Regions from separate parts of the Homo sapiens genome. Here region 1 is linked to region 2. The links come from fine-mapping of genetic effects on gene expression. Tissue or cell type: whole blood. Region 2 holds a variant in brackets; the other region holds the start of a gene. All regions are shown on one strand. Distances are between the middles of the regions.

Evidence for each region. PIP is the estimated chance that this variant, and not a neighbour inherited with it, causes the effect.
Region 1: SPACA6 starts here. The variant in region 2 is fine-mapped to the expression of SPACA6 in whole blood (INTERVAL, PIP above 0.99).

What each region holds. Positions count from the first base shown.
Region 1 is chr19:51,690,595-51,695,706 of GRCh38, forward strand. It overlaps SPACA6 (sperm acrosome associated 6), which reads left to right and starts at 2,736. Exons shown (of 9, transcript NM_001316972.2): 1 at 2,736-3,146; 2 at 3,884-3,961. The coding sequence starts at 2,933. It overlaps SPACA6-AS1 (SPACA6 antisense RNA 1), which reads right to left and starts at 2,862. Exons shown (of 2, transcript NR_108100.1): 1 at 2,040-2,862. It overlaps MIR99B (microRNA 99b), which reads left to right and starts at 2,018; the gene lies at 2,018-2,087. It overlaps MIRLET7E (microRNA let-7e), which reads left to right and starts at 2,192; the gene lies at 2,192-2,270. It also overlaps MIR125A. RefSeq lists enhancers at 1-201, 202-1,011.
Region 2 is chr19:51,750,123-51,755,322 of GRCh38, forward strand. It overlaps FPR1 (formyl peptide receptor 1), which reads right to left and starts at 1,756. Exons shown (of 2, transcript NM_002029.4): 1 at 1,692-1,756. The variant T/C (reference allele first, on the strand shown) is at 3,168.

The sequences.
Region 1 (5,112 bases), 60 kb before region 2:
CGCAGAGAGGGGGAGGGGGACCTAGGCCTGGGGGAAGTCCAGAGCCTACCCCTTCCCCAAAGCGGGGCTATGGGCCCAGGGAGTTCGCGTTTCCACCAACGCCTTGTCCAGTGACCTTGAACAAGTCCTGACCCTTCTCTCTCCGCCTCAGTTTCCCCAAGGAGACACTGGTTGGCGGGTGGGGGAGATGCTTAGGTCCGGGGAATCTCTGAGATTCTCGGCTTCCCCTCTCCCCTCACCCTCCTCCTCAGGCCCCAGGCAGCCCCGGGGCATGCTGGGAACCCAGGCCTGGGCTCCGGGCCAGGTTGGTGTGGGGGGGTGGGGGCGGGGGCAGCCTCCTCCCTTCCCCTTCCTCCCCACCTTGGCCTGACTCTCGCCCCCGCCTGAGGGTCTGGGAGGTTGGGAAGGAGGGAAGGGGGAAGAGAGCTGGCCGTAGACCCGTCTCCGGCCCCCGCCTCCCCCTTTCCTCCTCCGCCCCTTTCCCGCCTCTCCTCCCCCTCCTCAGGTCGCTACCCCAGCCCTGGGCCCCTTCTCAAACCACCCCCACCCCACCCCCAGCTCCAGACCTGGCTCGAGCTGCGAGGGGGAGGGAGAGAGGGAAGGAGAAAAGAGAGAGAGAGAAGGGAGGGAGACCCAAAGAGAGAAGGGGGAGGGGAGGAAAGAGAGAGACCTAAGAGGGAGGGAAGGAGAGAGAGAGGGAGAGAGACAGAGACTGAGAGAGAGCAGGAGACGGAGGTGAGGGATGGAGAGAGGGAAGGGGCGGAGGGAGAGGAAGTGAGGAAAGACATCCGAAAAAAGGGGGTGGAGAAGGGTGAGAAAGAGGAGAGAGACTGAGAGAGGGCCAGAGAGAGAATGAGAGAGACAAAGAGGGGGAAGGGGGAGAAGGGGAGGATGAAAGACAGAAGGTAGAGGAAAAGCAGGAGAAAGAGGGGGAGAGAAGGAAGAAAACAGAAGCGGGGAGAGGAGAGAGGCGATGGGCAGAGAGAGAAGCCAGCGCAGAGCCAGGGAGGGATGTCCTGATGCAGGAGGAGGCTGGGAACCAGGGAAGGTGGAAAGAAAGAGGGAGAGAGAAAAAGGCAGGGCCAGAGAGACCTGGACTGCGAGAAAGGAACCGGAAGGTGCGCCTGGAGCAGGGGCAGCGAGAACCAGACAGTCCAGGAGGAGGGGCTGGGCACGGGAGAGACCCCAGCTGGAGGGGCTCAGAGCCCAGGGGTGGGGAGGGTGGGTGCTGGGTCCCGGGGTCCAGAAGCTGGAGAAGGCTGGGGACACCTCCTGGATTCAAGAGGGAGGACAGAGATGGGGCTGGGCAGACTTTGGGAGCCTCTTCCCCTCTCTGAGGCTCAGCCCCCTCACCTGCCAAATGGGGATGCTGAGGGCACCTCGCTCTCTGGAGTGGGAGGTGTCAGGGAGAGGACTGGTGCTCAGGGCCTGGTATGGGGTCAGCGCTGGGAGATTGTGGCTGTCATAGTTGTAAATGACCCAAAGAAGGGAGGAGAGAGGAAAGAAAGCACCTAGGGAGGCTCTGATGGTTGGCTAGCCCCTGGCCTCCTTAGCCCTGGGCCTGGAGTCTCTGCAGACTGACAGGAGGGTAGGTAGGAAGCAGGTGTGCCCAAAGGGCCAAATTACGAGACAAATGAGGTTCCCTCCCAGCCGGCACCCAGGAAGCCAGGTTTTCTATCAGGCCATGCCTTCCCCAGGAGGCCTGCCTGGCCGGAGGGAGGAGGGGCTGGGGGCAGGGACTCCTGGGTCTCTGGGGAGAAGGAGGCTTTGGATCTGGACTCATGAGTCTGAGGGAGGAAGGGGCTGAGTCCTTGGATTCCAGGAACATTTGGGGAGAAAAGGGCCAGAGGCCTGGATTCCTGGGTCTGTGGTGAGGAAGGGCCTAGACTTCTGGGTTCTTTAGGGAGGAGGGGGATGAGAGCCTTGACTCCAGGGTCCCTGATGAGGAAGGGGCTGAGGGCCTGGACTCCTGGGTTCCTTGGGGAGGAGGGGCCGGGGGCCCGGACTCCTGGGTCCTGGCACCCACCCGTAGAACCGACCTTGCGGGGCCTTCGCCGCACACAAGCTCGTGTCTGTGGGTCCGTGTCGGGGGCTCACCATCGCGGCTGGGGCCTCCCCGGCCCTCCCCCTCATCCCTGGTCCTCCTGGTCCCTGTCTGTCTGTCTGTCGGGTCTGTCCACCTGCCGCGCCCCCCGGGCTGAGGTAGGAGGTTGTATAGTTGAGGAGGACACCCAAGGAGATCACTATACGGCCTCCTAGCTTTCCCCAGGCTGCGCCCTGCACGGGACGGGGCCCGGCGGGGACCCCCAGCCCCACTCAGGGACCCTTAGCCCCACTGGGCTGCCCCAGGGACCCTGGGAGGAAGAGCCGGGCTCTTTTCTGTCCTTGTCCCTGCATCCCCTCCTTCCCCTGAAATCTGTTTTCCTTCCCTGTCTGTCTCCATCTCTGCTGTGTCTCTGTGGCTTCTGTGTCTCTTTCACAGTGGATCCTCTGACTCCCTCTTATTCTGGCTTTCTAGGTCTCTGCCCCTCCCGATATCTCTCTGTGTCTCTATTTCTGTCGTTTTTGGTCTTTCTGTCTCTGGCTCTCAGAATGTCTCTGTGCCTATCTCCATCTCTGACCCCCACCCCAGGGTCTACCGGGCCACCGCACACCATGTTGCCAGTCTCTAGGTCCCTGAGACCCTTTAACCTGTGAGGACATCCAGGGTCACAGGTGAGGTTCTTGGGAGCCTGGCGTCTGGCCCAACCACACACCTGGGGAATTGCTGGCCTGACTTCTGACCCCTGACTCCTCATACCCTTCCTCCAGAGCATGACATTTGACCACCAACTGAAACCTGACCTCTGACCCCAGACCACTGGCCCTTCCCCCGCCCTGTGGTGACTTCATAAAGGTTACTAGCTTCTCCCCTGGCCTTGAGACCCACACGATGGCCCTGCTGGCTCTGGCCAGTGCCGTCCCGTCTGCCCTGCTGGCCCTGGCTGTCTTCAGGGTGCCCGCCTGGGCCTGTCTCCTCTGCTTCACAACCTACTCTGAGCGCCTCCGCATCTGCCAGATGTTTGTTGGGATGCGGAGCCCCAAGCTTGAAGAGTGTGAGGAGGCCTTCACGGCCGCCTTCCAGGGCCTCTCTGACACCGAAATCAGTGAGGAGACCATCCACACTTCATCAGTGTCCTGGGGAAGGTGCAGAGGGAGGGCAGGAGAGGCCCAGAGGGTCAGGCTGAGGGACAGACAGAGAGAAACAGTCAGAGGAGAAAGGCTCAAAGACCATGAGAACAACAGAGACTTAGGGACAGAGAGACACAGACAGGGGAAGACAGCAGGGCAAAGACTCAGAGAGGGGAGGATGGAGAGTCAGAGAGGGGAAGATGGAGACTCAGAGAGGGGGAGGATGGAGACTCAGAGAGAGAGGAAGATGGAGACTCGGAAAGATGGAGACTCAGGAGTATGGAGAGTCAGAGAGGGGAGGATGGACACTCGGGAGGATGGAGAGTCAGGAGGATGGAGACTCATAGAAAGGGGAGGATGGAGAGTCAGGAGAGGTTGGAGACTGGAGAGGGAATAGAGACCCAGAGAGGGGAGGATGGAGACTCAGAGGGTGGAAGATGGAGACTCAAAGAGGATGGAAACCCAGAGAGAGGAGGACAGAGATGAGGCAGAGACTAGGGGAAGCAGGATAGCGACTGGTCGGGGGCAGAGACTCAGGGAGGATAGAGACTTGGGAGGGACTCAGGAAGCATAGCGACTGTGGGGCAAAGAGTCAGAGAGGGGAGGATACAGACTTGGGAGGGCAGAGACTCAGAAACAGAATGTTCGCATTAGGGACATGGTGTTGCGGGGAGCTGCCTCCCCCAGCCCCTGCTCCCTCCCTCACCGCCAGACTATGATGAGAGAAGCCACCTGCATGACACCTTCACCCAGATGACCCATGCCCTGCAGGAGCTGGCTGCTGCCCAGGGTGAGTGTGTGGGGATGGGGAGATGGGAGATGTGGACTTGGAGCCCCTAAGAAATGGGTATGTGGGAGGGCCCAGGGCAGAGGAAGGAGGCCCCCAGAGTTGGGCAGTGATCCGGGAGGGGAAAGCTGGGAAGACATTGAGCTCAGCTACTTGTCCAAACGAAGGCTGAAGGCAGCTCTAAGAGCCAGGGGCTGAAGGTGGTGAGGGGGAAGGGACGCTGCAGAAATTGCCTAGAGCTGGAAGTCCAGATGGGGTCGGGTAGGCATAGGTTCTGCCATGGCTGCATGGCTCACACTCTTACTGGCTATGAAGTTCTGGGTGTGTCACTGCCCCTCTCCTGGCCTCAACTTACCCATCTGTAAAGTGGGACAATCTTCTTGCCTCCTAGGATGGCCATGGAGCTCAGTGCAGGGGTTGGGGCTGCCTGATGAGCCTGATCTTAGGGAAGGCATCTTCCTCTAGGATAGAACACACACACACTCGCACACAGACACGCTCAGAGACATACACTCACACTCACACACACACACAGATTTCTTATAAAGTGATTCCACATTTTTGAGGTGTGAGGCAATTAGAGGGCGGGAAAACAGGAACAGCAGAGTGGATCACTCAGGTGACAGCAGTGAAAAGAGACAAGGTGTGACTGTCCTGGTGAGACAGGCACATGTGACAGCCTTGAGGTGTGTGGCTGTGCGAAGAGACCTCAGGGCTGGGGGCCACGCAATGCCGATGGGCAGCATGGGCGGTAATCATGCCTGATCACCATGGCCATGATCCCCACGAGGTGCCAGACCCTGGAACTGTGGAGGCTCGGAGTTGCAGGAGTTACAGAGCCCTGCGCTATAGAATAAACTGGCTTCCTCTTAGGTCCAGGAGCTCAGGGCTTATTCCCACACCCACAGTCGCTCCTTTTGCTTCCTGCTTTGCCCTCCAAGCGTCCTGTCAACAATCCCGGAAGAGGGAAGGTTCCCATCCACCCAGGGGGCATCCAGGGCCAGCCTGGAGAAGGCCTCAGCTGTGGCTCTCCCCATCTCCACCCTAAAGGGAGACCTGAGGCCCTAAACCTCTCCATGTGGGGGTGTGCAGGATTCCAAGAAATGCCCTTTCTCCCCACATAGGCTGCCTTGTTACAGAAGCTTTTGAAAAGA
Region 2 (5,200 bases):
ATTCCAGCAAAAGTCTCTTTCTGCCTCTGCCCTGCCACGCTACTGGCACAGAAGAGCTGTCTAATGCACTAGTCACTCACCACATGTGGTTTTCAAGCACTTGAATTGTGGCTAGTCCAACTGGAGACAGGCTGTAGGAGTAAAATACCCATCAGATTTCAAAGACTTAGTATGAAAAAAATATTGTGACCATCTCATTAATAGTTTTTATATTGACTACATGTTAAAATGATAATAATTTGGCTATTTAAGTTTAGGTTAGATATTTTATTAAAATTAAGTTCGCATGTTTCTCTTCACCTTTTTAAAGTGCCTACTTGACACTTTGAAATTACATATGTGTCTCACATTTCTAATGAACTTTGATACTCTACAATCTCAGAAACAACTCAGAGATGTCTCCCTCCCCTACCACCCATCCAACCACCAAAATACCCTGAGGACTCTTTGTCCTCAAGAATCTCTAAGGCAACCAGTTCAGAAGATTGTTGCAATGAATGATGAGGATTCTGCAATAATGAGCTGGAACATACCAGAGAGGAAAACCTGTGCAATTTTGTCCAATTATGGTTCAAGGGAAAAATCCTGTGATTTGCAATGAACACAGGCCTTGGTGGCTGCCATCGATGAAGGACTTTATGCTTGATAATCATTGTACCACATCCTCAACTTTCTTGCCTCTGATCTCAACAAACTCAGCATTGATTATACATCATCATCCCTGTGTGACGGAAGAGGAAACTAGGAGCTTGATGAGAAATGACAGCCAATGTCTGCAGATTCATGAGAGGGCAGGGCTGTATTCCGCTACTGGGTCCTATGCACCATGCAGAACCAGTGTCTTCACGTGGAGACTCATCACTGATCCGAAAGGTGACTGCTTCTGTATTACACTCATTTCCCCATGACCCATCATAAAGTCGTTAGGGCTCTTTTGCTTTCTCCTGAAAGCTTCAAACCAAACATCCTTTCCCATCCCGACTCAAGCCCTCAAGCTGATGCCCTTGCCTCTTGCTCCACCAGATTCTCCTCCTGCTGGCTCCTGCATCACTGTTCTCTGCCCTCATCTCTGTAACCAGAAAACAAGTGTTTCCATCCAAGAATTACCCTCTACTGGTCCCATAAAACTCATTCCCCCATTTACTCAAGAACTTCCCTCCTTCACTTATCCCTTCTCTCTCCTGCAGCCTCATAGTGTCTCTATATTCCATCATTCCCATCAGGACCCCAATAAAGTCTAGAGCCTATTTGTTTATTTATTTATTTACTTATTTATTTGAGATGGAGTCTCACTCTGTCACCTAGGCTGGAGTACAGTGGTGCAATCTGAGCTCACTGCAACCTCCACCTCCCAGATTCAAGCAATTCTCCTGCCTCAGCCTCCCAAGTAGCTTGAATTACAGACGCCCACCACCACGCCTGGCTAATTTTTGTATTTTTAATAGAAGTGAGGTTTCAACATGTTGGCCAGGCTGGTCTCGAACTCCTGACCTCAAGTTATCCACCTGCCTTGGCCTCCCAAAGTGCTGGGATTACAAGCATGAGTCACCGTGCCCGGCCTGTTTAGAACCTCTTTAAAAAAATTATTCTTCAACTCCACATCCTTCTTCAAACAAAGAGTCTATTGTGTTCACCAGTGTATTAAGTGTGTCTATGTCAAGCTACCCAGTCCCCCAGAATATGTTTCTTACCTGGACTGTTCACCAGCTGTGGTCTTGCTCTGGGTAGTTCTAGGTCTGGGTCTCCTGGGGAGAGTGACTCAGGCTCTAATGATTGCAGCAAAACATACACCAAGGAACAGGAGGAGGGGTAAAGGAACTAAAACCAGCTGGGTAGCAGGAAATAGGAAGTCTGAGCTTCTTCTGATTTTTGATGGCCCCAAGAATACACCAATATACTGTCTGCTTTAATGGCATTAGGACAGTGGGCTGGGCCTGTTTAGAAACTCATGTACCTGACTGTATTTCTCAGCCTCAGTCTCTGTGGGATGCAGAGGTTCAGTGCTCTCAACAACAAGGGCCAAGAAATCCAAGTGTCCGGGCCCCTGCTCCCTCCAAGGGTCAAGGTAAAGAAAGCAGCAAGCACTGTGGTGAGAAGAATCAGAGGGAGGCAATGAAAGGAAGAGAAGAAGTCATGAGGGATGGAGACCAGAAACACAGAGAGAGGTAAGGGAGTGGGGGAAGTTGAGACAGTTGGCAGGACAGCGCGTCCACACCCATGCACACCACCAAGATTAACCCCATAATCCTCTGATCTTGTGGAAGCTCATTTGTAGTCTTCTAGCCCAAAGAAATAACCGTTTTTCTGAAATGTTAAGCATCCTTCCAAGGGTATCAGAGTGATATGGAGAAATATGGTAAGACAGTTACAGAATCAGAGATAACGACACTGATTCTAAAAGCATTATTACCAAGGCATTGTTGCATTAAGACTGTTTTTTCTTTTCTTTTAGAGACAGTATCCTGCTACGTTGCCCAGGCATGTCTCAGACCCCTGGGTTTAGTGATCCTCCTGCCTCAGCCTCCCCAAATGCTGGGATTACAGGCATGAGCCGGGCTGTTTTTAATTCTAAGTAATTTATAATTTACAATTACACCTAACAATGGCTTCAACAAGGGGTGTCCAATCTTTTGCCTTCCCTGGGCCACACTGGAAGAAGAAGAATTGTCTTGGGCCACACATAAAATACACTAACACTAACGATACCTGATGAGCTAAAAAAAAAAAAAAAAAAAAAAATCCCCCAAAAATCTGATAATGTTTTAAGAAAGTTTATGAATTTGTGTTGGGCTGCATTCAAAGCCATCTTAGGCCATGGGCTGGACAAGCTTAGCTTAGAACCAAGACGAAATTTATGGTTTACTTTACAAGAATTTTGCAAGAGGGTAATACTAGGTTAGGTTATATCTGGAAAATATCATCAAGAACTACATTCATTTTAATCTTTTCTCTTTTTTATCCCTAATATGGTGACTTTTTTTCCTGGGGATTGCCACTTCATGGCTCCAAGAAAGCTACCACAGCTCCTGACTTCACATTACAGCAGGGGTCCCCAACCTCCAGGCCATAGACCAATACACAGACCGATACCGGTCTGTGGCCTGTTAGGAAGTGGGCTGCACAGCAGGTGACTGGCAGGTGAGCAAGAGAAGCTTCATCTGTATTTA[T/C]AGCCACTCCCCATTGCTGGCATTACTGCCTGAGCTCTGCCTCCTGTCAGATTAGTGGCGGCATTAGATTCTCATAACAGTGTGAACCCTACTGTGAACTGTGCATGCCAGGGATCTGGGTTGTGTGCTCCTTATGAGAATCTAATGCCTGATGATCTGTCACTGTCTCCCATCACTCCCAGATGGGACTGTCTAGTTGCGGGAAAGCAAGCTCAGGGCTCCCACGGATTCTACATCATTGTGAGTTGTATAATTATTTCATTGTGTATTACAATGTAATAATAATAATAGAAATAAAGTCTACAATAAATGCAATGTGCTTAAATCATCCTGAAACCATCTACCCCGCCACCCCATGGAGAAATTGTTTTTTATGAAACTGGTCCCTGGTGCCAAAAATGTTGGGGACTGCTACACTCCAGCATCCCACACCAGGAGGATGGGGATGAGATGGAGAATCACTGAAGATCTTTAATCAGAAGGGTGATATGTTCATTTGTACTTTATAAACATTTGTGTTTGTATTTTATAAACATTTTCTTGGGATCATAACAACAGATGCATTTTAGAAGATTCCCAAGGTATGAAGGGTAACAAATGAAGACGTGCCTAGGAGTCACATGGAAGCCAACACTTTGTAAGGGGATTAAAATAAAGGGAATGGCAGAGGACATCATTATGCACAGAGGAGAAGGGCCCAAATGTCAAGAGAAAACAAGAGACAAGGGACTCCACAGAGAGTAATTGCCAGAAAAATTTGTAGGTCTTTTGAAGTCTGACTGTTCTTCCTAAAACGGGGGTCCTGGGACACCCCTACCTGTTTCCCATGAGCCCTCTTTTCTAAAACATAAGTAGGTTTTCTTCCTGGCTACCAAATGGCCTGTGATTAGCACACTAGGTTGGGCAAAAATAGAGCCAAGTGTGTGTTCCAAAGTGACTATGGTGAAGAAAAAAGCGAAAGTCTTAAAATGGACTTCCACTTCTGTGTTTGCGTAAGGCTAAAAGGGAAGATGTCTTAGGGTTGACCGGAATGGGAGTATTCCTGCCTATGCTGCAAAAGTCCCTGACTCTTCTGGTAACTGAAACATGAGAAATGGCCTCGGCGAGCAGCACAGCCTCCCAGTAAAGCACTGGACTGAGGTGGTAAAGCCAGATTGCCTGGACTAGAATCCCAGGACTACTGTTCACTAGCTCCGGACAAGCCAGCTAATCCAGGGGTCTCAAACATTTCCCCCAACTTTTTTTTTTTGAGACAGAGTCTCACTGTGTCACCCAGGCTGGAGTACGGTGGTGTGATCTTGGCTCACTGCAGTTTTGCCTCCTAGGTTCAAGTGATTCCCCTGCCTCAGCCTCTCCAGTAGCTGGGATTACAGGTGCCCGCCACCACGCCTGGCTAATTTTTGTATTTTTTAAGTAGAGATATGGTTTTGCCACGTTGACCAGGCTGGTCTTGAACTCCTGACCTCAAACAATCACTTGCCTTGGCCTCCCAAAGTGCTGGGATTACAGGACGGAACCACTGCACTGGGCCACAAACATTTCCTATGAAGAGCCAGATGGTCAATATATTTCATTTGGCAGGCCATAGGGTCTCCATCACAACTCCTTGGCTCTGCTGTTGTAGCCTGAAAACAGCCACAAGCAAAGTTGTAAATGAGGAGCATGACTGTATGTCAATAAAACTTTATTTAAAACACGACAATTGGACTTCATATAAGTTTTGCATGGCACAAAATACCCTTCATTTGATTTTCTTTAGCCGGTAAGAAATATTAAAGCCATTCTTGGCTCTCAGGCCATACAAAAACAAGCGGTGGCTAGATTTGACCCCTGATTTAACTGCACTGGGTCCCAGACACTTCACCTGTGAATTGAGAGCAATGATACTTACAGAGGTGTTTTCTGGAGCAGAACAAATAAGATCAGTGATACAAAGCACTTGGCATGAATTCCAGTGCAATAAGTATTATCAATATCTTAGTAATTACATAAACCTCTCTATCTGCTGTTTCACGTTCTCTGCGGTGAACCCA